Homo sapiens: one gene and its partners. The protein of the gene in region 3 interacts with the protein of the main gene of each other region in a biochemical or structural test. Each region holds a gene or a part of one and is shown on either strand. Other genes may lie near its edges. The genes, in order: PDCL3, ANOS1, KDR, BTRC and COL18A1.

Region 1 (3,500 bases), on a different chromosome or scaffold from region 3:
GGTTTATTTATTGGTCTTATGGCAAAAATCTAAGATCAGTTTGCTAAAATTCACAATATTATTTAATTGCAGTCGCTCCTAGATGTTTCAGCTGAAAATTAATTTTTTGAAGGACACACATTTCATTTTATTTTTTGAGACAGAGTTTGGCTCTGTCACACAGGCTGGAGTGCAGTGGCACAGTCTCAGCTCACTGCAACCTCCACTTCCAGGGCTCCTGAGTAGCTGGAACTATAGCCGTTCACCACCACACCCAGCTAGTTTTTGTATTATTTATAGAGACGGGGTTTCACAGGCTGGTCTCAAACTTCTGAGCTCAAGCGATCTGCCTGCCTCAGCCTCCCAAAGTGTTGGGACTACAGGTATGAGTCACCATGCTCAGCCCACACATTTTATTGCCACGCCAAAAAAAAAACCAAAACAAAACAAACAACAACAAAAAAACAAACAGCCCCTCTGGGTGGCGCTTACCTGTACATTTCAATAGCACGTTCATCCTCCTCATTAAACTCGTCTTCATGATCCTCCAGCTCTTCCAAAGTCATATCTTCATATGTTTTCACTGAATTTGGTTACATTGGCAAAAAGCAAAAATTTAAAAAGATGAACGAACATGTATTTTTCTTTTTTCCCCTCTCTTTTCTCCTAAAGATATGCACACAACACCAGATCCTTAGCCTACCTAAACAAAAATTACTTAAGGCACCACACTACATTAGAAGCTGAGAGGCCAGGCATGGTGGCTCACACCTGTAATCCCAATTTATTGACTGACAACATTTTACCCAAGCCCTCAGATCCTCCTCCCCTCTCTTCTCCTATTCCGCCTCACCCTGCCCCGCTTATTTTCCTTTTTTTGGAGACAGAGTTTCACTCTTGTCATCCAGGCTGGAGTGCAATGGTGCGATCTTGACTCACTGAGAACCTCCGCCTCCCAGATTCAAGCAATTCTCCTGCCTCAGCCTCCTGAGTAGCTGGGATTACAGGCGTGTGCCACCACACCCAGCTAATTTTTGTATCATTAATAGAGACAGGGTTTCACCATGTTGGCCAAGCTGGTCTTGAACCTTCTGACCTCAAGTGATCTGCCCATCTCAAAGTGCTGGGATTACAGGAGTGAGCCAGCCGCCCTACTGTTGAACCCTTTGCTGATTAAAATTCCCCAGGCTCAAACCTTTGACTACTTTTCTTCTTTATCCACACCCACTCCCTCGGTGATTGCATCTAATCTCATGGCTTTCAGTGCTATCAATATGCTGACAACTCCCAAAGTATAGGCCTCCAGCCCAGACTTCTCTAATGTAGAGAAAAACATACCCAAGGGCCCTCTTAATGTGGCTATTTGTCTAATAGGGATCTCCAAGTTAATGCATCCCTTGGCTGGGTGCAGTGGCTCACGCCTATAATCCCAGCTCTTTGGGAGGCTGAGGTGGGCGGATCACTAGAGGTCAGGAGTTTGAGACCAGCCTGGCCAACATGGTGAAACCTCATCGCTACAAAAAATTACCTAGGCGTGGTGGCACATGTCTGTAATCCCAGCTACTCGGGAGGCTGACGCAGGAGAATCGCTTGAACCTGGGAGGCGGAGGTTGCAGTGAGCCAAGATTGCGCCACTGCAGTCCAGCCTGGGTAAGAGAGCGAGACTCCATCTCAAAAAAAAAACAAAAAAGAGAAAATGTCACTCTTCTGTTTAAACATCCAAAAGCTTCCTGCCTCATTAGGTGTAAAGGCCAAGGTCCTTACTAGAAGCTTCTGGGTCTGCTGAGGCTGCTCTGAACTCTCTCCCCCAGCGCCTCCAGCTCCTCAGGGATTCCCAGCCATGCCAGGGCCCATATTTCACTCGCTCACGTCACCCCCTTCAGGAATACCCAGATGTCTTCTTCACCTCCTTCAGGTCTCAACAACTCCCTCAGGTCTATTCAAATGTGTTCTTCAGCTCCTTCAGGTCTTTACCCAAATGCCAGCTTCACCTCCTTCAGGTCCATGCAAATGTCATCTCAGTGAGGCCCTCTCTGAGCCTGCTTCTCCTCCAACCCTTTCTAGTCCCTTTTACTGCCTTATTTTCTTTATTGTTTATTGTCTGTCTCCCCCACTTGAATGTTGGTTCTCTGAGGGCAGAGAATTGTCTCTGGCTTATGCATAGCTAAATCCCCAACCCCAGAAAAGCACCTGACAATGATAATCATGCAGTAAGCACTCGCTGGATACTTTCTAATAAATCCTTCTCTAAATTAGCTCTAATGTGTCAACAGAGGACAAAAGTACTAGTCCCTGGGACCAGTGCTTCTCAAACTATGACACGCATCAGAATCCTTTAAGGCACTTGTTTAAAATGCAGATTCCTGGGCCTCATTCCAGAGACTGCTTCAGTAAACACTAGGTGGGTGGGGTTACCAGCACTCCAAGGGACTCCAATTCAGACAGTACAACTGCCTTTGAGAAAACCCCCCTCAGACTCCCACACATTGCAAACATCTTATGCCTCCCCAAATGAAGCAATTTTTAGTTAATATCCTCAATGAAACCACAGAAAATAAAGTATATGCTCAGGAAAATACAAGTACTAAAAACCTTGAACAAATTTCCATGACATTATCAAAGGGAATCACAGACCAGAAAGCAGAAAGAAGTATTTTCTTCAGTGCTCATGTGACATGGACAAGGACTTGTGGGACATATCTGAAGTCCCCTAAGTCTATGGCTCAGGAAGGTGAAGGTGAGAGACGCCCTGTGTTTTGTCTGAGGTCCCACAGACACAGAGTGTCCATGCTGGCACTCCAACCTGTCTCCTGGCAGGGCAGTCAGAGGCTTAGGGAGCCATCTCCTAACCCAGACAGGTGCAGAGGAAAGCGAGTGAACTCACCCACTGACTGCTGGAGGATGCGCTGCTCCTCTTCTGCCTCCTCTTCCAATTCTTTCAGACTTTCCTTGGGGGGTAAGATACCCTTTTTGCGTAAGATGTCATTCCATTCAGTGTCTGCGTTGGGGTCCTAGAAGAGCGGGACCAAGGTTACCATGAGTGCTAAGTCTAGTATGTAGGGTGCCACGTTGGGCAAGGGGCCAAATGGGAAAAGTGACAGGAAGGGAGGAATGCACACCAGTCTGTGAACTATTTCTGAGAAAGTGTCAAAAGATCCATAGCCCCCGTTTTGTTTTTCCTGTCTACCCCTCCCTGAATGGAGGAGCTATTCTTGGGGTAAAAATTAGGATAGGGAGTGCAGATCAGTATCAATACGGATACCAAGGCTCTGACTTGGCATGTGTTCAATATTTTTAATAATGACTGAGAGTGCCGGGCACAGTGGCTCACGCCTGTAATCCCAGCACTTTGGGAGGCTGAGGCAGGCGGATCACGAGGTCAGGAGATAGAGACCATCCTGACTAACACGGTGAAACCCCGTCTCTACTGAAAATACAAAAAATTAGCCGAGCGTGGTGGCGGGCACCTGTAGTCCCAGCTACTTGGGAGGCTGAGGCAGGAGAATGGCATAAACCCGGGA
Region 2 (6,557 bases), on a different chromosome or scaffold from region 3:
CCAGGCTGAGTATTAGTGTCTTTATTCAGAGGGCAGAGAAAAGCCATTCAATGACTCAAAGCCAACCTTGAGATGGGGATATTACCCTTAATTATTTGGGTGGAAACGAATACAATCACAAAAGTCCTTAAAAGTAGAATAGGGAAGCAGAGTGCAAGAATCAGAGAGATGGCATGGTGCGAAGGACTCAGCCCAGTGTTGTTGACTTTGAAGCTGGTGGAAGGGCACCACCAGCCAAAGAATTCCAGAAGCCTCTAGAAACCTGAAAAGTCATGAAAATACATTCTTCCCTGGAGCCTCCAGAAAGGAGTACAGGCCTGCCTTGATTTTAGACCAGTGACACCCATTTCAGACCTCCAGAAGAGAAGACATTTATATTGTTTTAAGCATCTACACTCAAGGTAATTTGTCACAGCAGCTGTAGAAAACCAGTACATGAACTGATTTAAAACACACCAAACCTATTGCATTGGCTGAATTAGTATCCTTATTCTCAGATACAGGGAATGAGGCTCACTGAGGCTGTTGGAGTTGCTTGCTGAAGCCCACCTTCCTCGAAGGTTATGTGTGGGGTCAAAATTCTGCATCCTACAGCCAGAAAGAAAAGTGTGAATGCAAGGAGCAGTTGAGGTGCAGAAATCAACATGGTAGCTACAGCAAAGTTGAGTTTGGAAAGCCTCCACATGGGAGAGGAAGGAGGGAGCATCAGCTCTTCAAGGGACTAGCTCAGGTGAAAGTAGACATTTGGGAGCTGTCAGCAGAAAAATTTTTCAAACCATGGGAATCAATGAAGTGATTCATGGAGGTGACACAGAGAGAAGATGAAAGTGCAGTGAACTCAGACATGGCGAGATTTAGGGCTAACAAAAGGGAGGGAACCCAAAAGGAGTGCCCCATGTGTCACTCTTGATGCTGCCTCCTATGAAAATATAATTGCATTGTAAAATATGTAAAGGATTTTTAGGATATGGAGGATCCCCAGGGCAGCCAAGCCTCCTTGTATTGCTGTAATGTAGCCACCCCAAGTCCCCTGACTGCTCTTCACCAAAGACCTTCAGTCATCCGTCATGCTCCGTTCTCATGTCAGCACTTTGGCACGTGCTGTGTATTCCCTGCTGGTAGAGCATTTAAGCTGCCCAATATTGTAACCATGGCCATCTTCAGCTGTTTAAATTTAAATTAATTAAAATGAAACAGAATAAAGAATTAAATTCCTCTGTTAAACAGAGGACATGTGAAATGCTTTATAGGCACAGGTGACTAGTGTTTACCACAGACAGAACATTTCCATCACACCCGCCAGTTCTGTTGGACAGGACTGGCTGAGAACACCCTCCCACAGGTCTCTGCAGTGCCACTACCCACTGCTACACCTTCTTCAAGTCCTGACTCAGAATTGAACACACGCCAGCCGCCTTATATAAAATCAGCACTTTTTGTCAATCCACCCTACTGCCCTTACCTTCTGGTTTTTTTTTTGTTTTATTTTTTTGTTTTTTTGTTTTTGGGGGGGGGGTGGTGGGAGACGGAGTTTTGCTCTTGTTGCCCAGGCTGGAGTGCAGTGGCGTGATCTCGGCTCACTGAAACATCCGCCTTCCGGTTTCAAGAGATTCTCTGGCCTCAGCCTCCCGAGTAGCTGGGATTACAGGCGCCTGCCACCACGCCTGGCTAATTTTTGTATTGTTAGTAGAGAGGGGGTTTCACCATGTTGGCCAGGCTGGTCTCAAACTCCTGACCTAGTGATCTGCCTGCCTCGGCCTCCCAAAGTGCTGGGATTACAGGCGTGAACCACCGTGCCCAGCCACCTTCTGTATTTATATGTGGACTTACTACGTTCTAACATAATATCTATCTTATCTATGTATTGTATTTATTCTCTGTTATTATTGGCCCCATTACTATGTAAAATTCAGGAGGGCAGCAGCCACTCCTGTGTGATTATTTCATTGCTGTTGAATGGAAGAACATGAACACACTCAGTGATTGACTTCAGCGTTGTGCATAGCCTATAATTCTTTTTTTAAAAAATAAACTCTTGATGTCTGCTATGTAAAAATTAAAACCTCTAGTACATGATTTCTCTTTTAGCTAAATGCCCGGAGTGCCCACTTTTATATCTGTTTGCTTTCTCGGATTTAAAGTTCTTCTTTTCTGGTTCCAAAGTGCTCAAAGCGAAGTTCCCACTAGATCAACCCAATTTCATCAAAGAGTTTTCTCCTCTGAAAACTCCCATCAAACACTTGGCATGATGTTGGGGGACAAGATGTTAAATCACCTGCAAAATGGTGCCATTTGGTGCCATTTCACACTCCTCGGACACACTGGGGTGATTAATAAACCCGAGACTGTCAAGGTCTGCTTTCCCACACTCATTGAGTTGCTTGCCGCTATTTTATCTTTTTTCCCCCCACTTTATTGTCCAAAGTAAAGAAATGTACAGAAAATATTCCTCTTGCCCTGGGAATAAACGTGTTCAAAGGGTCAGTCTTCTGGCCTGTGTTTGAGAACACCAAGTCATATTTCAGTAGGGATCAGCCATACAGAAATGCCACGATGCGCTTGGTTAAGGGAGAGTGGGAAGCATACGTCCCTATCCTTTGGACAAAAGAACTTCTTTATGGCAATACATAACAGGAAATAAACGTGGATAGCCAATTCTGCAAGTGTGAAGGGAATGTTTTTGTTCTTGTGTGGATTCAATAGTATCTCATCTTTATCAAAAAAAAAGGTAGGATTGAGAAACTTCTGATGATTCTCTTTTGCAACAGGAATTACGAGAGCTGTTGCTAGGTGTTGCCTTTCATTGTAGGGCTTTGCTTACTGTAAAAACCATGGCTAGGTTATTCTCAAGACATCTTTGGAATCATTTTGCTATGAATTTACTAATTTTTTTTTCTACTTAGTGCTTGCACTTCAACACAGGTTTTCCCTTGGCAGTATATTACTTTTTTCCCTTACTTTGTTCTTAATGATTAAGTATTCAGAATTACTAATTATTATAATTATTAAGTAATCAGAATCTCACCTCCTTTGGCTCACTGTGCATTTATTGGTCACCTGTAGAGTTTCATTTCCTCTCCTTTTCTCCTCTCAAGTTCAAGAACCCCAGGCTACCTGGAATGTAACATCCAGCCTATTATTTTTGTTTGCGTGTTTTGGCATTATAGATCCCACTGTCAACCGATATCATGTGCGGTGGTTTCCTGAAGCGTGTGCCCACAACAGAACAACCGGATCAGAGGCATCATCTGGCATGACCCACGTAAGGACATGATCTCTAGGCCAACTTGATCTGTGAACATAATTAGACAGGAGGATGTACAAACTAGACAGGTCAAACAGATAACTCATTCCCACAAATCAGCTATGGAGTAATGACTTGATGGAAGTGGAAAGCAGAATGGTCATTATATTCACTCATTCTTTTATCCATTCACACCATTGCACTGGGAGCTTACTCTGTTATCCACATGGAGCAAAACCTAAAGTGCAGAGACTAAAGACACAGTTCTTAAAGAACTCCCATATTTCAGGGGGAAATATGTCTGAGTATGTGTGTGCTTCATCTTAACTGGACAAAAGCTTTGAATTATTTTCTGAATTTTGACATGTCACCGTGATCTAAAGGTGTAATGGTACAAGTGGATTTCTATGTGACTCTATCATTGAGCACCATGTCCCTAACTGCCATCAGCTCAGTTAGTGAAATAATCTCCCTGTCCTGTATAGCATGCACCAATATTTTGACTTTCAACTTTAAGAGAACATTAAACTCTCTGAGGATAGCAACTCTGTCAATATTGCCCAAAATGTTATTCCAAATATTTTGGGGTTCATTCATGAATTATAGATTAGAATCAACAAACTAACACAAAATATTTAAGAGGTCATTTTATTATACAGTGTATAATACACTTTGATGGCAGTTTATATGTGATACCTCAGGACAGTTTAAAAAATCCAAAAACATGGCCCCAAACATAGAATGTTTTGGTTTGTGATATGTAACTAGAATATTTTTGTTTTGAACATTTTCTAAAGCAAGCACGATATTTTAAGAACCATACCTGCTGGCATAATTTTAAGAGAGTGAGATAAAACAAGTCACTGGATTTTCAGAAATACACAGATTCTTTTTCTTTTTTACTGGACTTAATTTGTCTCATGTTCAGCAATGTTTCTCCTTGTATTTATCCTTAAATTAGCTCCAATGTTTGTGACCTTCAGTAAAATAATTAAACAGACATTCTAAATAAGGAAGTCGATTTGAAAAGCAGAGAAAGCAATAAACAGAAGCTGGAATTATTAATATTTTTGTGGGCAGAGGGGTGAGGTTTTTGTTTTACTTATATGTGTGTGCCTCAGAACCTTACAGAACTGGGCTTATGTCAATGCAATTCCCCAATCCTAGGCTTATCATCTTTAGGAACTCTGAAAGTGGTAACAACTATTTGCTGAGCAGATGTAATGTATCTGGTAGAAATAAAAATCAAACTCCTGAAAAATTATCCTTCTAGGGGTTTAGAACTTATCTGTATTTAGTTTTAAACCTTTAGATCCAATTATTATAATTTGTTTTTATGCTACAATGGAGCATCCACTAATTCACTTACTGCTGCAGATGTCTGTCTCCTATGCAATATGAAAACAATCTTGAAATATCTGTGAAACAGGATCCTTAATAGCTAACCTTGGATTCCAGTATAGTCCCATGTAAAGAGCAGATTTATTTCCAAAGAAAAGCAATTCAGACTCCCAAAGAAACATGGTGGCCTTGGCTTGGGCTTGGGTTGGGCTTGGGTTGGTCTTGCGTTGTCCAGATTGATTTGTTTCCTATTCACTGTTTGTGCTAACTGGCTGCAGAGTTGGGTGCACCCCATCTCCTGTCACCATCTGGATGAAGGGCCAGCACACCTGGAGGTCACTCCCGGTCTCTTTTGAACATTCAGTGCTCTGTCACCTGCAGCCACTTCCACTCCTCACTTAAGTAAATCACTCAAGCCTCAGTTTTGATTTTAATTCTTGTCTCATGTTTTTCCCGTCAACGCTGCTGCTTTCTAGCAAGATCCCCTACCCATCATCCAATGAGTGCCAGAGATATTCCATCTGTACTTTTTTTCCTCTCTTAAAAAATAATTAAACACACACACACACACACACACACACACACACACACGTAAAAACCATGGAGTCTCACTATGTTGACCAAGCTGGTCACAAACTCCTGAGTTCAAGCGATCCTCCCACCTCAGCCTCTCGAGTAGCTAGGACTATGACACGAGTCACCATGCCCAGCTATCCATCTGCACTTTTATACATATACATTAAGAATTGGTAAATACAAAACAGAATGGATAAGTGCCATTTAGCCAAATATGAAAGAAACAGAGATACACACCTGTTATCACAGGAAATGTCATCTTTTGACATTATCATAAAGTTATATTCTTAGCCCGTGACTCCTTACCATTTAGCCTCTTTCTTTTATTTATATTTAATCACAACATTATGGCAGAAAACAGTAACAGCACTCCAAAAAAGGGAAAAATTATATTGCTAAAGAATATCATCATTTTTTAACAGAAAAACTTACATATAAACTAATTCTATGTCTCAGAGAAGCCTGCGTTAGTTTTTTTTAACTGAAAAAAGTTAGATTTGTATTTACAGCTTTACACCACTACCTGCACTGCTACCAACTCAAAAATGCTGATTGCGACCTTAGAAGTAGCCTGCTTTGATGAGGAATTATTATGATACTGTTTAATTCTAGAAGGCATATCCCGCAGCCATGGGAGTGTTTCACAATTGTCATTAATCAAAATGTGGACAGTATGTGCTTTGTACTTTTTATAAAAGCCATATTGCACACACTATATAGGAAAACATCCTTGTTGGATGGAATATGATTTCAATTCTTGCCAGTGTTTTTTAATCCCTAATGAGATTTATTGCTAGCATAATTCTCTTTCTCTTGCTCTAGGAAAATTACATAATTCTTCAAGATCTGTCATTTTCCTGCAAGTATAAGGTGACTGTCCAACCAATACGGCCAAAAAGTCACTCCAAGGCAGAAGCTGTTTTCTTCACTACTCCACCATGCTCTGCTCTTAAGGGGAAGAGCCACAAGCCTGTTGGCTGCCTGGGCGAAGCAGGTACGTTTTCACCTGAAGGACTTCTACATCTAGGTCTACGGTGTCAGCAGCGCTTTGCAAACCTTGTCAAACTGCGTTTCACAAGACCGTGAAAACCAAAAGTGCCTCTCTTTCTAAGTTGTGTTATGATGGCCCAATGTGGAGGGAAGAGATGTAGGAATGAATGTGTTATTTTAAAGCCTAACAGGCTTGGAAAGATGTCCTTTGATAGTAATGTTATCCCTTTGGAAATGAAGGCAAACATTTAGATACCGCTTGTGTTTTGGGAAAGTTTGATATAATTATTTCATTATTTTCCCACCCCTTTGCTGCGTGGGTTATACTCACACACTTTCCATGCCAACCTGGCAAACCTCACATCTGTACCTTCCATCCCATCTCCTTGCCAATGTCCCTGTCTTG
Region 3 (5,672 bases):
ATTTTCCCTATGGGGTCTTTGTTGGTTGGAGAAATTAGCATCAATTTAACAAATAAAGAATGGAAACTAACCACACAATAAAATTAAGTGATAAATCTAAAAATAATCTGAAATAAATTAGAGAATTTGGTCAATTTTTATGAGAATTCATGAATACTAGGGAATTTCTGTGTATATTTACTGTGGTCAGTAATGGCTAAATGAAAAAGGTGATTGGATGTGATCCGTAAAGCTGTCAATATGATTACAATCTTTGTGGACTCTGAAGAATTTTTAAGTCTGTATACAAATGGGTGCATCTGTGCTTAAGAAGTATGATATATAAATAAGCCAATATCTATTTGTTTGAGACATTTAAATATTATTGTCTGAATTCGAAGTATTTCATTGTGAGAAAAGTATTAAAATTAGTTTTAAATATAATCTCCCTTCTATGGCTCAGTAGGAATTTGTAGGTGTCTTGAATACGTGTACGTTCTCTTAACATAACAAATCAATGAAAATCTATATTTATAAGAATAATAGAATAAGTGTAGTTATGTATTTGCTGGAGTTTATTTGCTAGAGTATTCTTACCTAAAGGTAAGAATAGAGGAGGTTTTGATCTGCTTATAATCTTTTATATAAAATGGGAATACTCATGGGTTTTTGAATAATGCTCATACCAAAAAGAAAACAAACAAAAAAAACCCCAACATATTAAAAGGTGCCATTGTGCTATTTTATTGTTTTCTTTAAGGCCCAAGGTAAGAAATTGTGAAAGTCAATGATATGTTTCATTCATTGATTCAAAAAATGTTTATTCGGCAAGTATCATGTGCAGAGCACCATGCCATTGCTTGAGACACCTACATTAGTTTTGTTGGGGTTGAATTGAAAGAAAAAATTGTATTTCTCATTATTTGAAGTAACTTTTAAACTATGTATAAACACGAGTTACTAAAATTCCCTTTTGCAGTTTTAACATGAAGAAGTTGGGGAAAACACCTATTACCGGGAAAAAACACCTTAGAATGGCTTGTGAAAGTGTAAATCCTGAAGTTTTAGATCAACACAGCCTGCATTTCTAGGCTTTGACATGATTACCGTCTGTCAGGATTCCATGCCATTGAAAACATTTTCTAGTTGCTGCTGAGTGACAGGGGTTCTCAGTCCTTCCAAGGAATGTGGTTTTGATGAGTAAAAAGCAGCGTTTGATATGTCTGGCTTGACTGCACACATGCTTCAAGTTATTAAAGTTTAAAGTTGCTCAAGAGCTTTATTACAACCATACACATGCCCCGTAATTCCCAAATTGCCACAATAGGAAAAGCACAAGTGAAATTTAAGAACATCCCAATTTCCTTGAATATCATGCAAGTGGCCCTTTGGCGCCTGTCACTGTATACAAATTTGTCAATCTGCGAGGCCATAAACATGTTCCATCAGTTGGGGCCTTTGCATAACTCGAGAGAACTGCCTTTCATCTCATTTGAGGCTTGAAAGACTTGGACCTGAGTAAGAGGACTTATCTGCAACTACTAATTCATGCGAGTACCTGAAAATAGACCTTGTCCCTGTAAACCTGCTATGCTGATTAACAACTGGGAGAGATACGGGGCTGCGGTCTCCAGGGAGATGGCAGCCATATGGAGTTGGGAATGGGGTGAGGGTAAAAAGCAAAAGAATTGTCTTCTCTCTGCCAACTCCTTTGTTTGCCATTTCTTCTGCAGTGGAATGGTGCCCAGCAAAAGCAGGGAGTCTGTGGCATCTGAAGGCTCAAACCAGACAAGCGGCTACCAGTCCGGATATCACTCCGATGACACAGACACCACCGTGTACTCCAGTGAGGAAGCAGAACTTTTAAAGCTGATAGAGATTGGAGTGCAAACCGGTAGCACAGCCCAGATTCTCCAGCCTGACTCGGGGACCACACTGAGCTCTCCTCCTGTTTAAAAGGAAGCATCCACACCCCCAACTCCTGGACATCACATGAGAGGTGCTGCTCAGATTTTCAAGTGTTGTTCTTTCCACCAGCAGGAAGTAGCCGCATTTGATTTTCATTTCGACAACAGAAAAAGGACCTCGGACTGCAGGGAGCCAGTCTTCTAGGCATATCCTGGAAGAGGCTTGTGACCCAAGAATGTGTCTGTGTCTTCTCCCAGTGTTGACCTGATCCTCTTTTTCATTCATTTAAAAAGCATTTATCATGCCCCCTGCTGCGGGTCTCACCATGGGTTTAGAACAAAGACGTTCAAGAAATGGCCCCATCCTCAAAGAAGTAGCAGTACCTGGGGAGCTGACACTTCTGTAAAACTAGAAGATAAACCAGGCAATGTAAGTGTTCGAGGTGTTGAAGATGGGAAGGATTTGCAGGGCTGAGTCTATCCAAGAGGCTTTGTTTAGGACGTGGGTCCCAAGCCAAGCCTTAAGTGTGGAATTCGGATTGATAGAAAGGAAGACTAACGTTACCTTGCTTTGGAGAGTACTGGAGCCTGCAAATGCATTGTGTTTGCTCTGGTGGAGGTGGGCATGGGGTCTGTTCTGAAATGTAAAGGGTTCAGACGGGGTTTCTGGTTTTAGAAGGTTGCGTGTTCTTCGAGTTGGGCTAAAGTAGAGTTCGTTGTGCTGTTTCTGACTCCTAATGAGAGTTCCTTCCAGACCGTTACGTGTCTCCTGGCCAAGCCCCAGGAAGGAAATGATGCAGCTCTGGCTCCTTGTCTCCCAGGCTGATCCTTTATTCAGAATACCACAAAGAAAGGACATTCAGCTCAAGGCTCCCTGCCGTGTTGAAGAGTTCTGACTGCACAAACCAGCTTCTGGTTTCTTCTGGAATGAATACCCTCATATCTGTCCTGATGTGATATGTCTGAGACTGAATGCGGGAGGTTCAATGTGAAGCTGTGTGTGGTGTCAAAGTTTCAGGAAGGATTTTACCCTTTTGTTCTTCCCCCTGTCCCCAACCCACTCTCACCCCGCAACCCATCAGTATTTTAGTTATTTGGCCTCTACTCCAGTAAACCTGATTGGGTTTGTTCACTCTCTGAATGATTATTAGCCAGACTTCAAAATTATTTTATAGCCCAAATTATAACATCTATTGTATTATTTAGACTTTTAACATATAGAGCTATTTCTACTGATTTTTGCCCTTGTTCTGTCCTTTTTTTCAAAAAAGAAAATGTGTTTTTTGTTTGGTACCATAGTGTGAAATGCTGGGAACAATGACTATAAGACATGCTATGGCACATATATTTATAGTCTGTTTATGTAGAAACAAATGTAATATATTAAAGCCTTATATATAATGAACTTTGTACTATTCACATTTTGTATCAGTATTATGTAGCATAACAAAGGTCATAATGCTTTCAGCAATTGATGTCATTTTATTAAAGAACATTGAAAAACTTGAAGGAATCCCTTTGCAAGGTTGCATTACTGTACCCATCATTTCTAAAATGGAAGAGGGGGTGGCTGGGCACAGTGGCCGACACCTAAAAACCCAGCACTTTGGGGGGCCAAGGTGGGAGGATCGCTTGAGCCCAGGAGTTCAAGACCAGTCTGGCCAACATGGTCAGATTCCATCTCAAAGAAAAAAGGTAAAAATAAAATAAAATGGAGAAGAAGGAATCAGACATAATTTCCATGTGGTTGTTTTACATTTTTACTGGTTTTCTTACTCTTCTTATAAGGGATATTTTCATAAACTGATTATATATTTTACAAACCAATAAATGTATTTGTAGTACAAAGTATGAGGGTATAATATCACCACAACTATTTTGAGGATAAGTATGTCTGGTTTAAAGTTTAACTGCTTCTTCCCTCTTCTTCTTCATTACAAAGAATTCACACACACACACACACACACACACACACACACACACACGCCACGCATACACCCCCCAACACCCACACCTCCTCCCAGCCCCCCCACACCCACACATCCAACCCCCCATACTCACACTCACACCCCCTCACAGTCACACCCACCCCCACACACCTACACACCCACCAGCACACACATACCCACACACAGATCCACCCACACACCCACACCCACCCACATACACACACCCCCCCACATGCACACCCCCACACACACCCACCCCCCACACACCCATCCACACACCCACACATCCAACACCCCCGCACTCACCCACACCCCACACACACCCACACACAACCCACCCCCCACAGTCACAACCCCCCTCACATTCCCCCATACACGTCCTACACACCCACCACACACCACCCCCACACATCCACACTCCCACACACATCCCTCCACACACACCCCCCAACACTTTTTCATATTATATTCTAAGCACTTTAGAGATGTTAAAACAGAGATATGTGATTCCTTGGCCCTCCAGTGAACTCCATATCTGTTAGAATAGCCAATCATGAAACTCAGGGGGTGAAAGACCCTGAGACAAGTGATCAGACCCATGGCAGTGCAGGGAGGCATGGACCAGATTTACAGTCTCTAATAATATTCTACTCTATACTTACAGAGTCAGAACATAAGATCCATTATTGCCATTTTGAATGATTACCATCACCCAAATTCAGTAGGTGGAGTTATTTAATAAATTATTGGCCCAAATAAGTGACCTTATTTTTTGTGATTTTTTAATACAAGATTTTGAAATGTTTATCTAGTCAAATATGCCTCTCCCTATTTTTAAAAAATGGCTCCTAGGTTTTAAAAAATTTTATTAGAGAAGGTCTTTCCAATTCTAAACCCCCAATTCTAAATTTTCTTCTTTTATTGCATTTAAATCCATTTGGGATTATTTGCATATATGGAGCAAAGTGAAATAGGAGTCTAACTTTATTCTTTTTTTCAAGCAGATTATCAATCATGGCAGCACTGTTTATTAAATATCCCTGTTTTCCCTGTGGTTGGCAACAACCCTATTGTATCATTGTTCAAAACTAGCACGTCACTGAGACGTTCTGCACAGCTTTGTGATGAAGGGTGGGGCTGTTGCTGTTGTGTGTTCTTGGGGATGGCACTTCCAGATTGGGGATGAGAACATTAGGGTCTCCTGAAAGACACTGGTAAACTGTGGGTCAGGCTGGCCTTGTAGAGAGTTCCTCATCTGTTCCTGTTGTTACAGTCTCTTTCAGTAAATGAATGGAAGAGTCTAGGTTATTTGGGATGGAGAAGACCTTGTAGGAAAACACAGGATTTTCTTCACTTTAAGAAAAAGAGAAGATTTTCTTTTTCATAAGTGGCTCTGGCATTGCTTCCAATGCCAGAAATTTGGATTCAGCTGAAACTTCACACTTTATTAAGAAATGCTTTCAGCACCTCAGGCAGAATGATTAGGAGGTGAGGTTTGGCCTTCTTCCTCTCTTTTCTGTCTTCCATGCCTCTTGTTCTTAGCATTTTTTTTTCTCCTCATTTGCCCCTGTATTGAAGAAAAGTCTGTGGTTTCTAAAAGTGCTTCCTGCAGGGTCTTATTTTCAAAGCTTTCCTTGGAGGCTTTTGGTGTGTTTTAGGTGGGGCTACTGTTTCTCCCTCTGGCTTCTGCCCTCCCTCCTTCTCTCCCTTGATCCACTTCTGTCCTTCTCCCTCCCTTTAAACCCTCGTCTCCTCATCTTCCATTTCTCTCTCCACTCACCTTCTTCTCTGCACCCCCGACCCCAGCAGGAGAGGTGAGAGCTGTGGGGAGGGGGGG
Region 4 (6,557 bases), on a different chromosome or scaffold from region 3:
ATCACTAATGCCTCTGGAAATTGAGGGCCCCTACCTGAGTGAAGCTTGCAATTAAAAACTGCAGGGATGGCAGGGGAGGGGCTGGCAAAGAGAGCACAGCTCACCTGTACATGTTTCAAAGGAGATAATACAGACCTGCACTACAGTTACCACTACCTGAAAGGAAGGCTTCATTGCATTCATATCATTCCCCCGTGAGGTGGTTTTTGTAAGGAATGCAAAGTTTACCATAAGGATAAGAAAAGTTTCTGTAATAGATGATCCTCCAAATTAAAATAGAATGTGTAGTTTCTTCAATGTGCGAAAATGTAAACTTACCTCAAGCATTTCTAAATCAAGTTTTCTAGTTCTAGACTGACAGAAATGATGGGGACCTGGTGGTTTATTCTTCTTTAGTTTCAGAACTGTGCCGATATATACAAAATTACTATCTATGACAAAGAACAGAGCAGAGCTGATATTTCAGAGTTCAAAAAAGCATTTGAAATTTTCTACCTGACCGTGGAATCCGATGATCCTGTTATGATCACTCTCTCATCATACTGGAGACAGAGGACTGAACCTGTATGGCCTGTGAGAATTCGCTTGCATTCCAATGTGTTTTTATCCCAGATCTAGGATGGCAAATAAGATCCTTTTGATCAATGTGATGATGGGGTGCTGTGGAGACTTGTTGGTCCTATTACGTGTCTGATCCCCCAAAATAATCAAAGCCCAGAGTAGTGTGGAATGCATTTTCTATAGGTATAGCTAAGCGCGCGCGCGCGCACACGCGCACACACACACACACACACACACACACACACACACACACATATAGCTTCAGTACTAATGCAAACTTTTATCCTTTTCATTAAGGAACAGGGTAGTCTATAATTATGTGATGGCCAAAAGAGTAACAGCCCATTCAGTGCATTTCAAGAAGAGAATTTAACCCTAGGACTACCCGTTTGTATAGTGGGGAAGCTGATGTCTGTCCTTTAAGGAAATGATTTTGGCTTTGGGACTGGAAACAATCTAAAATCTTCACTTACTTTCTAGAAATAATGCTTAGAGTTTATGCTTTAGACTGCGCTATGAATGTGGTCACTCTTGCTCCCTCTGCTACCTTTCTACAACTGAATAGACCTCACCTTGATTGTGTTGTCTCGAAGGCCGCTTACTATTTTCTGATCATCATACTGTAAACAGTAAACTCCTTTGCTTGTTTCACTTCGGCAGTGAATTCTCTGTAAACTATGTCTTCCACATCTCCAATTAGATTCTATTGTCTGAGAAGAAGGAATGGGAAAGAGGCAGTGTTAGGAAACACCTAGAATCAAACTCTTTTTAGGCTTTAATGACAATCAATGGCTCAATGCTTTACTCTATGGGATATACACAACTTAGGGAAAACTAAAAAATGTCTTTAAAAGGCTACTATCTATATTTATAAAATATTCTTCCTTTTGCAAGGTAATTAAAGGTTGTTTCCTAGAACTTCCCTGCCTATAATTTGTTCAATTAAATAATAAATCTGGTGGAAAGAGACTACTCATCAAGAGAAGAAAAGCTACGAACTACGTGAGGTTATACACTCAGTGCTCTTACATATGTGATGGCCATTGCTACTGATTGCTACTGATGAACTTCTAAGGAGGTTCAATTCAGAAGATATTTAAATATGAGCTTATGAGTACAAGTTTACCAGTCACACTGCTATGTATGAAGGGATCAATCTCTTTAACTCTCTCATCTACTTATTAGTAAACCATTTTTTAAAGCTTTAAAATTTTGCCTAGCAATTTATTTTACCTACCCTACTCGCCTGTAAAGAGATTGATTTTCTTTTCCTTTTCTTTTTTTTTGATGGAGTCTCGCTCTGTCGTTCAGGAGGGAGTGCAGTGGTGCGATCTTGGCTCACTGCAACATGTGCCTCCCAGGTTCAAGTGATTCTCCTATCTCAGCCTCCTGAGTAGCTGGAATTACAGGTGTGTGCCACCATGCCTGGCTAATTTTTGTATTTTTAGTAGAGACAGGGGTCTCACCATGTTAGCCAGGCTGGTCTCAAACTCCTGACCTCAGCCTCCAAAAATGCTGGGATTACAGGTGTGAGCCACCATGGCCAGCTAAGAGATTGATTCCCAACTCATGTCAATAAACCTTAATGGGCTTGCTGTAACCATACTGTGACTGAAGAATGCTGATAATTCTGTGCCCTTGGGCAATACCCCAAAATACATAGATTCTTACCTCAATGTCTTGTATAATTTTAGGATAAAGTGCTCTATAAAAAGAGTTGGGAGGAGCATTCCCGTCAGGAGGTTTGTTTTTGAATAAATACTGTCCCCTAAAAAATAACAAATATTTCCCAGTGAAAATCATGACATTATATATTTAAATACATATATATTTTGAGACAGAGTCTCGCTCTGTTGCCCAGGCTGGAGTGCAGCAGTGTGATGTTGGCTCACTGCAACCTCCGCTTCCTGGGTTCAAGTGATTCTCCTGCCTCAGCCTCCTGAGTAGCTGTGATTACAGTCATCTGCCACCATGCTGGCTAATTTTTGTATTTTAGTAGAGATGGGGTTTCACCATGTTGGTCAGGCTGGTCTTGAACTCCTGGCCTCAAATGACCCGCCTGCTTGGCCTCCCAAAGTGCTGGGATTACAGGCGTGAGCCATCACACCCGGCCGACATTATATATTTATAAGGAACTTCATATATTTTGAAAGTGTTTTCACGGTTACCATTCCATATACTCTCCATAGCTGTCTGCGGAGGAGCAAAGGTAAGCCTGATTTCAGGAGTCCCATGTCAAAGAGTAACCTTCTGGGCTCTAAAGAATCTGACCAACACTGATTTGCTTTTGGGTAAAACATGATTATTTCCAGTGTAGAACATCGGAGTACCAAGCCTTTAGGAATATTATAATATCAGTAAACAAATGGAATATGTACAATCAGAATTCATCTATTGCTCTATTAAGACTACTGCTTAGATTCACTGGCCTCATCTTTTGGAAATTTTGTTAGTAATGGTAACTATTACCTTTGAACTAGCACATGCCCTATAGGTTTTTTTTTTTTTCCCTTTTACTGTGTCAGTGGTCCCCAGCATTGTAGACAGCAGCAATGCCTCTGGCATGGAGATCACTTTTGCTAGGTCTTTATTTGTACAGGGTAAGGTGTGGTGGCTGCTCAGTCACCCAGGCTGCTGCTAATCAGTGCAACTATGCTTTGAAAGGAGCAATTCAGTTCATTTCATCAGAAAACAAAAGGATCACAGGTGTGTCCAGCAGCAGCTAGGGAAGAAGAAAAAAAAGAAATGCCTAAGAGCACTGCTATCAAGTCTAAGGCATGAAACTGACTTTCACAGGTGTGTTCCTGGCTGTGTACATACACATGTACTTAACTGCCTTCCCTGATTCCAGTGAGCAACATTTGTTAGTATCTCCTTCCTTATGACAGCACATCTCTGGAATACTCGTATCCCAAGCTAGATCTTTGCTACAAAAAAAAAATCAGTAAATGGCAATCACTTCCTGCTGGGTAAAAAATTTAATTCCTCATCCGGAAGTTAAGAACCCACCAAACACGGTGTGGAAGCTAGTAAACCCCACTATGGGTGTACTAACTGCTGTTCTCACTGGCACCGTGCCTTGCAAAGTGGAGAGAGGCAGAAATGCCTCTGAGTGTAATCCTGGCACCAGAGAAATCATGTTTTCTCTGGGCCAGTCATCCACTCCTCCCTCTATAGCTCCATTACAATATAATTAATTGTTTGGTGTCTCCAGGAGTGTTTCTCCCCTGCCCTCTCCCTGTTATATACCCTGAAAATTAGTTGAGAAAATTTCCTATCAGGAAGGTAGATGGCTCTAACTTCTGTGTTAATACAGAAAAGAAAATCTGAAATAGAGAAGTGAAAATAATACTTATAAAAAGGGGGATTAATGAAACATGATACACCAGCATAAACAAAAGGGGAAACAAGATGCGTTATGAAAGAATTCCAGATTAATGGTACATTTCTCTGTACAATATTATTCTACAAACACTTTGCAGGCAAATAATAGATTTTGAATGTGAAGATTTTAAGTCTGACTCCTGAGCCCACCCACATTCTTAACTACTTTATTGTTTCTCAATGCCCACCATTCCTGAGATTCCTGTCTTCTTTTAATCTCTAGCACTCCAAGACTTTCTTCCTATGCAATGATACTATCTACATTCTAAGGAAAGAGAACTCACATAAGCTTCTGATCTTGTTTTCCACCTCACTGCATTTACCATGTCTTGGTAAAGTATCTGAATTTCTTCAAATCAAAGTGTTACAGAAAGAGGTGGCTAGGTACTGAAAACTGGCTTCTGTCTTTATGTTTTAAGTCAAAACCTTTTATGATGGAAGATCTTTGAAAACAGGGACTACTTCTATGTGAAATGCCTAGTACCTACAAGAATGTGAGTACATGATAAACGTTAAATATTAAATTCAGAATGTTATCATAAAATGTGATCTGCTGATTAAGAAAATTGACTTTTCCCAAGTGGTCTTTTATTATACTTTTAAGAGTTACCATTACTGAGCAGACAGCATATTCAGTATTATTCAAGAGAGAAAACTACAGAGTTCATGTCCCAGGGGAAGACTGTCAAATCCATCTAGATATAAAATACAACATCAAATACCAAGTTAAAACTTAGAGATAAAAGCTTTATTAGAAAACTGTATTTACTTACTATTTTTGGTTAGTAGAAATGGAAGAACCTTTCAAAGCTAGCATATGGGGAAAAGTATAACACAGAAAGACTTTATTGACGTATTAGGCTTGGTAAGACAACTTGAAAGAAGAAAATGAGAAACTGATGGAGTAAATTTTTTTTTAAAAAAGGGAAGAAAACTGACACAGGAATAAAGTCAACATGTAAAAACAGAAGCAGCAACAAGAAAGTCGAGGGAATAATGGAGGAAGTTGACACGGGATGTATAAGTATTTGGAATTTCATGGGTTTATCATGGGATTAAGAGGATAAACATGCCCAAAGACAAGGGGATATAGTCAGAACTCTGAAGGATACTCAAAAGAGCGGGAATGGGTTTCTGTGGATAAAGAGATAGGGGAAAAAAGTGGTAATTAGTGCTGGATCCTGGATTACTTCACCTACCCTTTAGAAAGGCTCAAAAGCCATCTTCTCAATGATTGTTTTTTCTTTGTAACTAACATAAAAGATCTTGCCATTTAGTGCCAATCCCAAGCAAAACTGTGGAGCCTTTTACCTTTGGCATTTTCACATCCATCTGCCAAGAACTGCCCACTTACTTCTTGATCTTTCTGCCTTCAAAAAAGGACTCAGTAAACTCCCAATTTATGATGAAGGTTTACTGTCATTTACAGTCCAAATGGGAACACAATGTATTTTAACAGGTAACAGAACCTTTATAGCTAAAGGAATGAATCTCCTTAACTGAAATTTCAGGAGTTATTTGGAGACGAGATTCTTTTTTTCTGAGGGATACAGAAATCTTCTCAGCTGCCCTAAAATTTTCTCATGTAAGCAACTGCCTGCTGTATCCCCAAGGCTGGTCCCAGCACTCTTAGCAAAATGATGGACCCCGAATACCATATAACTCCATTTTTATTTGCTTTGTTGTACTATTAAAGAGTTTATTTCCAAAGTATGAAGTAGGTTATGAAAGATTTCTATTTTTCTATGTAGCGAAATAAGAATTAAAAAACATATTTGAGAAGTAGTAATAATATTCTTTTGTGTGTGTGTGTGTGTGTGTGTGTATGTGAGAGAGAGAGAGAGAGAGAGAGAGAGAGACAGAGAAAGAGACAGGGTCTTGCTCTGTTGCCCAGGCTGGAGTGCAGTGGCATGACCACAGCTCACTGCAGCCTCAACTTCCCAGACTCAAGCCATCCTCCCACCTTAGCCTCCTGAGTGGCTGGGATTACAGGCATGCGCCACCAGGCCCAGCTAATTTTTTGATTTTTTTGTAGAGATGAGGTCTCAATATGTTGCCCAGCCTGGTATCAAACTCCTGGGCTCAAACGATCCTCTTGCCTTGGCCTCCAAAACTGTTGGGATTACAGGCGTGAGCCACCCCACCCGGCCAACAATATTCTTTGTTACACAGCCTAAAAATTGCCTAGTTTTTTTGTTCCTTTAATTCAATTTGAGAGAAAAATTTAAACAGTCTTCCTAATAGCCAGAATGATAAAAATCTGAGGCATTTGGTATAATATTTATAGGTCATTGTATTTATTATGTGTTAATAAATTTCAAAGATAGAAAAAAAGAAAGAGAGCCAACTACTTTTTCATGAAAATTCAAAGGAAAGCTGGCCCATGAATATTTATCTTTTAAAAGTGTTCTCTACTTTTAACTGTTTTCCTCTTTATGATCCAAGATAAACAACTGATAAAATTAATTTGGAAGGACATCACTAAGCACACACATGCCTATTATAATTTTTTCTGTCAATGAGAATATTTAATATGTCACCTTTATTTGTGAACTATTACTACGTAGCTTTCCTATAGTGACATTCTAGAGACATACTCTGAGAGAAAAGTA
Region 5 (6,557 bases), on a different chromosome or scaffold from region 3:
GGGTGTAGGGTGCCAGTGTCCCAGCCAGGCCCTCCCCACCCGCCTCACCCGGCCTCTCTTTCCAGTTCCAGTTATACTCCGTGTACTTCCTGATCCTGTCCATCATCTACTTCTTGGGGGCCATGCTGGATGGCCTGCGGCACTGCCAGCGGGGCCACCACCCGCGGCAGCCCCCGGCCCAGGGCCTGAGGAGTGCCGCGGAGGAGAAGGCAGCACAGGCACTGAGCGTGCAGGACAAGGGCCTCGGAGGCCTGCAGCCAGCCCAGAGCCCGCCGCTTTCCCCAGAAGACAGCCTGGGGGCTGTGGGGCCAGCCTCCCTGGAGCAGAGACAGAGCGACCCATACCTGGCCCAGGCCCCGGCCCCGCAGGCAGCTGAATTCCTGAGCCCAGTGACAACCCCTTCCCCCTGCACTCTGTGCTCCGCCCAAGCCTCAGGCCCTGAGGCTGCAGATGAGACTTGTCCCCAGCTGGCTGTCCATCCTCCTGGTGTCAGCAAGCTGGGTTTGCAGTGTCTTCCAAGCGACGGTGTTCAGAATGTGAACCAGTGACTCTCGGGCGCCCCTGTGGTAACTTTGCAGGCGGCCCTCAGTGCATCCCCACGACCCCTGCCTCGAGGGCCGCCTGCCTTAGCAATGGGGGCCTCCGCTTATCCTGCTAGCAGGCCCCCTAGGATTCCCCCTGCCCTGTGCCGCACTCTGGCGGTGGCCACAGCGTGCTGGCGACACTCAGGGCAGCTGCCTGGCCATGCTGTCCCTGCACTGTGCCCCGCGGGCTTTGTTGCTGGAAGAGGTGGGTGGTGGGCTTCTGCGTCCACCAGGCCTCACTGGCTCATGCCCCTTGGGGGGCTTGAGACAAATCCTTTCTGCCCCCCAGGGCTAGTGAAGTGGCCTCTTGGATACCAGCTCAGGGGACACTGGCCCCACAGGAGTTGTGAGCCCTCTAGGGCAGGGTGGGAGCCGGGACCCTCAGGTGTAGCTGAGCTGTGACATTGCTGGTCATCCTTGGTGCTCTTGCTTTTTTGAAAGATGCTTTTTTTTTTTTTAACTGACGTAGAATGAAGAACTGCATGTGGCTTCTCTGTCTCTGTGGAAAAGCCATCTCAGGTTGGCGGCAGACACATTGTCATCAGAGGGGAGCAGCGGCTCTGGTCCTCGGAGCTGGTTCCTCTCTCCCACCCTAAGGGCAGCCCTCCATGGTCCTGTCTGTCCTTCTGAAGTGTGTCCATCCTGACCTGCGGGTCCTCAGCTGCTCCCACACTTGTGCCAGCCCGGAGGGGACTGGTCCCGGTCACCGCGGACGTGCTGGCCTTGGTATGTGCCAGGCTTGCCTGGGCTGGGCAGCCTTGGGGGGGCTGCCTTTGTGGTGGGCGCTGGGGAAGTACGTCCCAGCGGCCTCAGGGTCTAAGGAGCGCTAGTGCCTTGCCCACAGGTGCGGGACCATCTGATGTGATGTGAATACTCTTCCCACATACATTAAACACACTTAAGTGAGTGTGCGCAGGGCTTCTGATTCAGGGCCGGCCTGGCCTGGGGGTTGAGGGTCAGCAGTCAGTGAGGAGGCCAGGAGAGGCGTCCCAGCCTTCTCCCGCCTCCAGCCCACGCAGGGCCTTGGTGCCCATGAGCTGAGCACCCCCACAACCCTAGTCAACGGCCCTATCCTGTGGGGCCTCTGCCACATCTCAGCGGCCCCAGGTGAATGGCTGGCTGCTCAGCACGGAGAGCTGGGGAGAGAATCTCTGGCTGGGGAGGGGCTGCTGGAGCTGCTGGACCCAGGGGTCTCCCGAGGTGGCTCAGGGGAGCAGGCATCTTGGGGTACCCTGGGTTGAGGCAGAGGCTGCACGTGGAAGATGGCCCGAGTCAGTGGATGGTGCCAGTCAGACAGGGCCATGGTCCCAGGTGCATCCAGGGGCTCTGTCATGGCCACCCTGGGGACCCTGCTTGGGGGGGGGTCTGCACCAGCCATTTCCTGGGCTCGTAGATCTAGCAGGATGTGATGGGTGGAGGTGGGCTGGGCCTGTGCCATGGGCTAGAGCGTCACTGGGGAGGCCCACACCGCCATCAGAATCCTCCTCCCAGCGCCTCCCCAACCTGAGGGCCTGCTCCCTCCGCAGCCTGCTCACTGCACCCACTGCCTGCCTGCCTCTGAGTCCTGCACTCACCCGTCCACCAGGACAGGGATGGCTGTCAGGATGTAGTGTTGCTGGGAGCAAGTCAGGTCCTGCTGTGAGGAGAGACCTAAGAGTGTTGGTGTGTGTCCACACACCCGTGCATGCCTGTGTACCTGTGCACACTATGGATGCTCCTGCACACCTGTGTACAACTGCACGCCTGTGTATGGCCATGCATGCATACCCCATGTAACCGTGCGTGCCTGTGCACACTCGGGATCTGCCAGTGGGGCAGTCCAGGGATAAAAGACTCCTGAGAACTCCTTTTGGAGAATTGTGTCCTTCCTGTGACAGTGAAGGCTGCTTGCAAACCAAGAGTCAGTGTAAAAGGTCACTTTTATTTGCCTGTCTGAATTGGCTTCACATCACACACAATTACAGAACCAGCCCCACCGGTTTCGTCGCAGTCCTGAGGCAGGTGCGTGTTGGCTGTGCTGTGGTCAGCCTGGCGCTGCCCTGAGTCCACTTGTCCCTCCACAGAACGAATGACTCGGGTTGATGTTGCCGGATCTCAGGGGTGGCTGTGACTGACAGAGGACCTTGTTGCACCTCGTGGCTGCTTTGTTCACCCGCAGGGCGGCCTGTGGGCACCCCGGGGTTCCCCTTCAGTCCCAAGGAGGGTAAGGATATGGGTTTCCTAGGAGACAGCCAATGACTGCCCTGCATCTGGAGCCAGCCTGTCCATGGGCAGTGCACAGATGACAGCCCTCCCTCACTGCCCTGTGTGCTGGCTACCGCATGTCCTGTGCCAGCCTCAGCCTCTTTGATGTGGCCGTGTTCCATCCTGGCGCTCAGCTGGACAAGTGCTGGCTGAGCCACGTCCCAGCCAGGGGCATGAGATGGGGGCCCTGGATGGGAGGCTGCCAGACCCCAACTCATGGGTCCCTTGAATCTCCCAGCTTGGACTCGGCCAGGGTGGAGCTGTCTGCTTTGGATGTATCATCTCATGGCTCATTTGGGAGGCCAGCCCCAGGCTGCTGTGCTTGGTGTTGGAGGACAGGCCGGAGCTGGGGGTCACAGTGCGCCTCTGAGCTTGGGAACCTGCTTCAGCCTGGGGTTGCTGTGGAGAATGGCCCAGAGCTGAGCAGAAGGGGCTCCCCCTAGCCCCAGGGACCTGAGCCTCCCTCCCATCTACCGCAGGGCGAGCACACACCCTGGAGGAGCCCAGATGGCCTTGTGCTGAGTGTGGCCTCAGCTCCCATTGCCTCACGGGGCCTGTCTGCTAACAGGTCTGGGTTTTGTGCACAGAACGGTGCTGCTAGGTGGGAGATGAAGTCAGCACCTGCTGGGGCGAGCACGGCTTCCCAAAGCAGGAAATCCTGGAGAAATCGAGCCGTGGTCTGATCAGGCCAAGAGGTTGCACAGGGCATGATACTGCACCCTGCCTGACCCAGCTGGGCTCACAGGTCAGGGGAGAGTTGGGGCAGGTGAATGTCAGCATCAGGCTTCTGTTTTAAACTTTTAAAAAAATACACTCTTTGGCTTCCTTTTATTTCTTGAGGATTACATGAAACGTGAACTATACAGGAAAGTATGGCAGCCAGGTCCTGGGGCCAGGGGCTGGCCGGCCGCTCCCTGCCCACGGTGGGGGCTTCCTCCGAGCCGCCGGTCCTCTCCGGCCATCCGCATCCAGGCGGTGGCTACTTGGAGGCAGTCATGAAGCTGTTCTCAATGCAGAGCACGATGTAGGCGTGATGGCAGCTCGCGGCACTCTGCCCCAGGAGCCTGCCCCCCAGCAGCGAGGAGGCCTGGCCCGTGGCCGAGGGAGCCTCCGTCCGCCACGTCTCACAGTAGCTCTCGGTCAGCCTGCGCCCGTTGGGGTCCGAGCCATGCCACACGCTCTTCTGGGGCCTGTAAGACGCGCCGGGCCGTCAGTCAAACCCAGACCTGCTCTGCTTAGGGCAGAGGCCGCTCCCCGGGCAGGAAAGGTGGAGGCAGGAGGCCAGCCCTGGGGTTACCAGGGGGCTGCAGAGGCTCCCACAACCTGGAGGGCCACATGGCCTCCCTGCTGGCTGCCTGTGGAGGGGGCTGCATCTCCCAGACTGCCCCCCATGCTGCTTCTGCCAGACACACCCACGGCAGAGGGGAGAGGGGCCAGGGCTTGGCCTGGCTGGGTGAACCTGGCCCTCATGCCTGCTGAGCAGAGGCTTCCTGTGGCTGCCTCGCTAGGAACCAGCTCCGCCTCCCGGGCTCCTGGCTTTCAGGCCTTCCCTGGGGCCCAGCCCTGCCCACAGCACTCCTGTCAGAGACCCTTGGCAGGTGCATCTCCGTTACAGCAGATGGCCAGGCACTGCTGGGGACACGCTGTGTGGCACCCCGAGACACCCCTAAATGCATGAGTGTTGGAAGAATCGCGGCGCTCACGTGGGGAGGGCACAGCGACATTTGGGACGAAGCGTTCTTCTAGATACCCTGGAAATTTCTGTCAACATTTTAAGGGCACACATGCTCGGACTCCGTGTTGCCCTTTGAGGAGTTTATTCTCGGTGAATAAACTCGCTGCGCTGCTTACATGGCTGACCACAGGCTTGGTGACATCCGGGAGACATGGAGTCTATCCGCCATGAGCAGAGGGCCGGGGGCACCTTCGGGGCCTTCTTACAACTACCTGGCTCTCAAACGCATTGCTAATGATGACTTCTCAGAGCAGTTCTCATTTTTCTCAATGCTCTTTTGGATTTTGTAATTTTAAAGTAATGAGCATGTATAAGATTTGTCCAAAAACTCGGGGGGAAACTGCAGATAGGAGCCCGCCCGCCCGCCTTCCCTGGCTGGGGCTCTCAGAGCTGCTCACACGGCACTGGGAACCTACCAGGTGGGGTGCCTCAGGACGTCCTTGCCGTCAAAGGAGAAGATGCGTGCCCCGGGCTTCAGCGGACCCTCAGAGCCTGAGAACAGAGCCTCCCAGCTGGGAAACAGCAGCTCGTCCTGGAAGAGAAACCGTGTGTATGTGTGTGTGGTGTGTGGGGGTGTGGATGGGTGTGGGTGTTTGTGGGGGGGTGTGTGGATGTGGGGTGTGGATGTGTGGGGGGGGGGTGTGTTGTGTGTGTGGGGTGTGGGGGGTGTTTGGGGGTGTATGTGGGGTGTTGTGGGTGTGTGTTTTTTTGGGGGGTGGGGTTCTGCAGCCCCTGGGCATGTCCTGCCAGGGAACAAGCGTGGGGGAGCCAGGCCTGGCCAGGCAGCCTCTGCAGACCCCAAGAGGCCTTGGCTAAGGCAGGGGACCCTGTCCCCTAACGCCAGGCCACAGCCGCCTGCTCCCAGCCCTGGGTCTCTGACCCCTCTGCTGTTGGTTCTGGGGAATGTGGGTGCTCCCCGGGGCACCCAGAAGCCACAGCCCAGTGCACGAAAAGGGGCCACAGAATAAAGCCACATGGGTGCTGTGGCAGAGGGGCCACCAGCCCGCATGGCACTAGAGGCCCAAAGGACGGTTCCTGATTCCAGGCTTGTATGTGAGCCCTATCACCTGTGTGGACACTTGGTCCAGCAGCATGGGACCCTCTGAGGGGCACTGCCGGGGGAGCGGGGGGTCAGGGGGCCACGGGGGGGCCTCATGGGATGCCCTGGGGGACGTGGCAGTGCCCAGGGATGCAGAGGCCTGGCCTGAGCCTGGAGGGGTGTGACCCACCCGGAGCCTGCCCTGAAGTCGCCAGCCTAGGCGCCAGTGTCTGTAACATGGTGGCCTCCAGAGGCCCTAGAGGGGAGCTCCCCGCTGGGAGTTCACCCCAGAGGTCAAGTGGGGGCCGAGGAGCCCGCGCCCTCAGGACTGGACTGACCCACCTTGAGGTTGACGATGGGCACGGCTGCGCGGTCGGCACGGCGCACGATGCTGTACAGGTCCTGCAGGCGCGAGGACAGGAAGGCGCGGAAGGTGCCCGCCAGCCCCACGGCCCGCGCCTGCTGGAAGCACTGGAAGTCGGCCCCGCGGATGCCCCGCATGCCGCCTGACAGGGGGCTGTTGAGCGCAACCAGGTGGAGCTGCGGGGAGAGGGGCGCGTCACGGGCTGTGTCCCACGCTGCCCCCTGCACCCAGGCCCCGGGCGCACCACCCCGGCCCCGCACCTGTGTGGACAGGCACGGCCGAGGGGCGCTGAGCGGGAGGCGCGCAAGTGACACACTGAGGGGCCCAGGCAGCAGCCCCCATACGCTGCCAGGTCAGAGCAGCCCCGGGCCACGTGGGTGCCCCCAGCTGCCGCTGTAGGCGGAGGTACGCCGGTTCCTCAAGGATGTGACAGCGGCTGGACTTTCATGACCACTGCTTGGCCACCAGAGGGCAAGTCCCAGGGCCAGCCAAGCCGCCCTGAGTGGCCCTGAGCCGCCAGACCCCCACCCATGGCCGAAGCCTGGGACCCCCAGCAGCTCTGCAGGGGCTGGGCCCTCTTCTGCTGCCGAG

What was found.
Region 1: the proteins of KDR (region 3) and PDCL3 form a complex in vitro, tested with the Homo sapiens proteins (one study listed by BioGRID).
Region 2: the proteins of KDR (region 3) and ANOS1 interact in a biophysical measurement, tested with the Homo sapiens proteins (one study listed by IntAct).
Region 4: the proteins of KDR (region 3) and BTRC form a complex in vitro, tested with the Homo sapiens proteins (2 studies listed by BioGRID, with this or other methods).
Region 5: the proteins of KDR (region 3) and COL18A1 form a complex in vitro, tested with the Homo sapiens proteins (one study listed by BioGRID).

The regions. Positions count from the first base shown.
Region 1 is NC_000002.12:100,565,993-100,569,492, reverse strand, and holds part of PDCL3 (phosducin-like protein 3), read right to left. Parts: intron 2,991-3,500; coding exon 2,864-2,990; intron 563-2,863; coding exon 472-562; intron 1-471. UniProt on the Homo sapiens protein: Acts as a chaperone for the angiogenic VEGF receptor KDR/VEGFR2, increasing its abundance by inhibiting its ubiquitination and degradation.
Region 2 is NC_000023.11:8,536,369-8,542,925, reverse strand, and holds part of ANOS1 (anosmin-1 isoform 1 precursor), read left to right. Parts: intron 1-3,167; coding exon 3,168-3,262; intron 3,263-5,983; coding exon 5,984-6,155; intron 6,156-6,557. UniProt on the Homo sapiens protein: Has a dual branch-promoting and guidance activity, which may play an important role in the patterning of mitral and tufted cell collaterals to the olfactory cortex. Chemoattractant for fetal olfactory epithelial cells.
Region 3 is NC_000004.12:55,076,204-55,081,875, reverse strand, and holds the end of KDR (vascular endothelial growth factor receptor 2 precursor), read left to right. Parts: intron 1-1,712; coding exon 1,713-1,935; 3' UTR 1,936-3,395; downstream 3,396-5,672. UniProt on the Homo sapiens protein: Tyrosine-protein kinase that acts as a cell-surface receptor for VEGFA, VEGFC and VEGFD. Plays an essential role in the regulation of angiogenesis, vascular development, vascular permeability, and embryonic hematopoiesis.
Region 4 is NC_000010.11:101,527,009-101,533,565, reverse strand, and holds part of BTRC (F-box/WD repeat-containing protein 1A), read right to left. Parts: intron 2,330-6,557; coding exon 2,233-2,329; intron 1,272-2,232; coding exon 1,134-1,271; intron 615-1,133; coding exon 496-614; intron 1-495. UniProt on the Homo sapiens protein: Substrate recognition component of a SCF (SKP1-CUL1-F-box protein) E3 ubiquitin-protein ligase complex which mediates the ubiquitination and subsequent proteasomal degradation of target proteins. Recognizes and binds to phosphorylated target proteins.
Region 5 is NC_000021.9:45,509,649-45,516,205, reverse strand, and holds the end of COL18A1 (collagen alpha-1(XVIII) chain isoform 4 preproprotein), read right to left. Parts: intron 6,143-6,557; coding exon 5,945-6,142; intron 5,096-5,944; coding exon 4,980-5,095; intron 4,019-4,979; coding exon 3,808-4,018; 3' UTR 2,486-3,807; downstream 1-2,485. Other genes in the region: SLC19A1 (reduced folate transporter), read left to right, coding at 66-548. UniProt on the Homo sapiens protein: Probably plays a major role in determining the retinal structure as well as in the closure of the neural tube.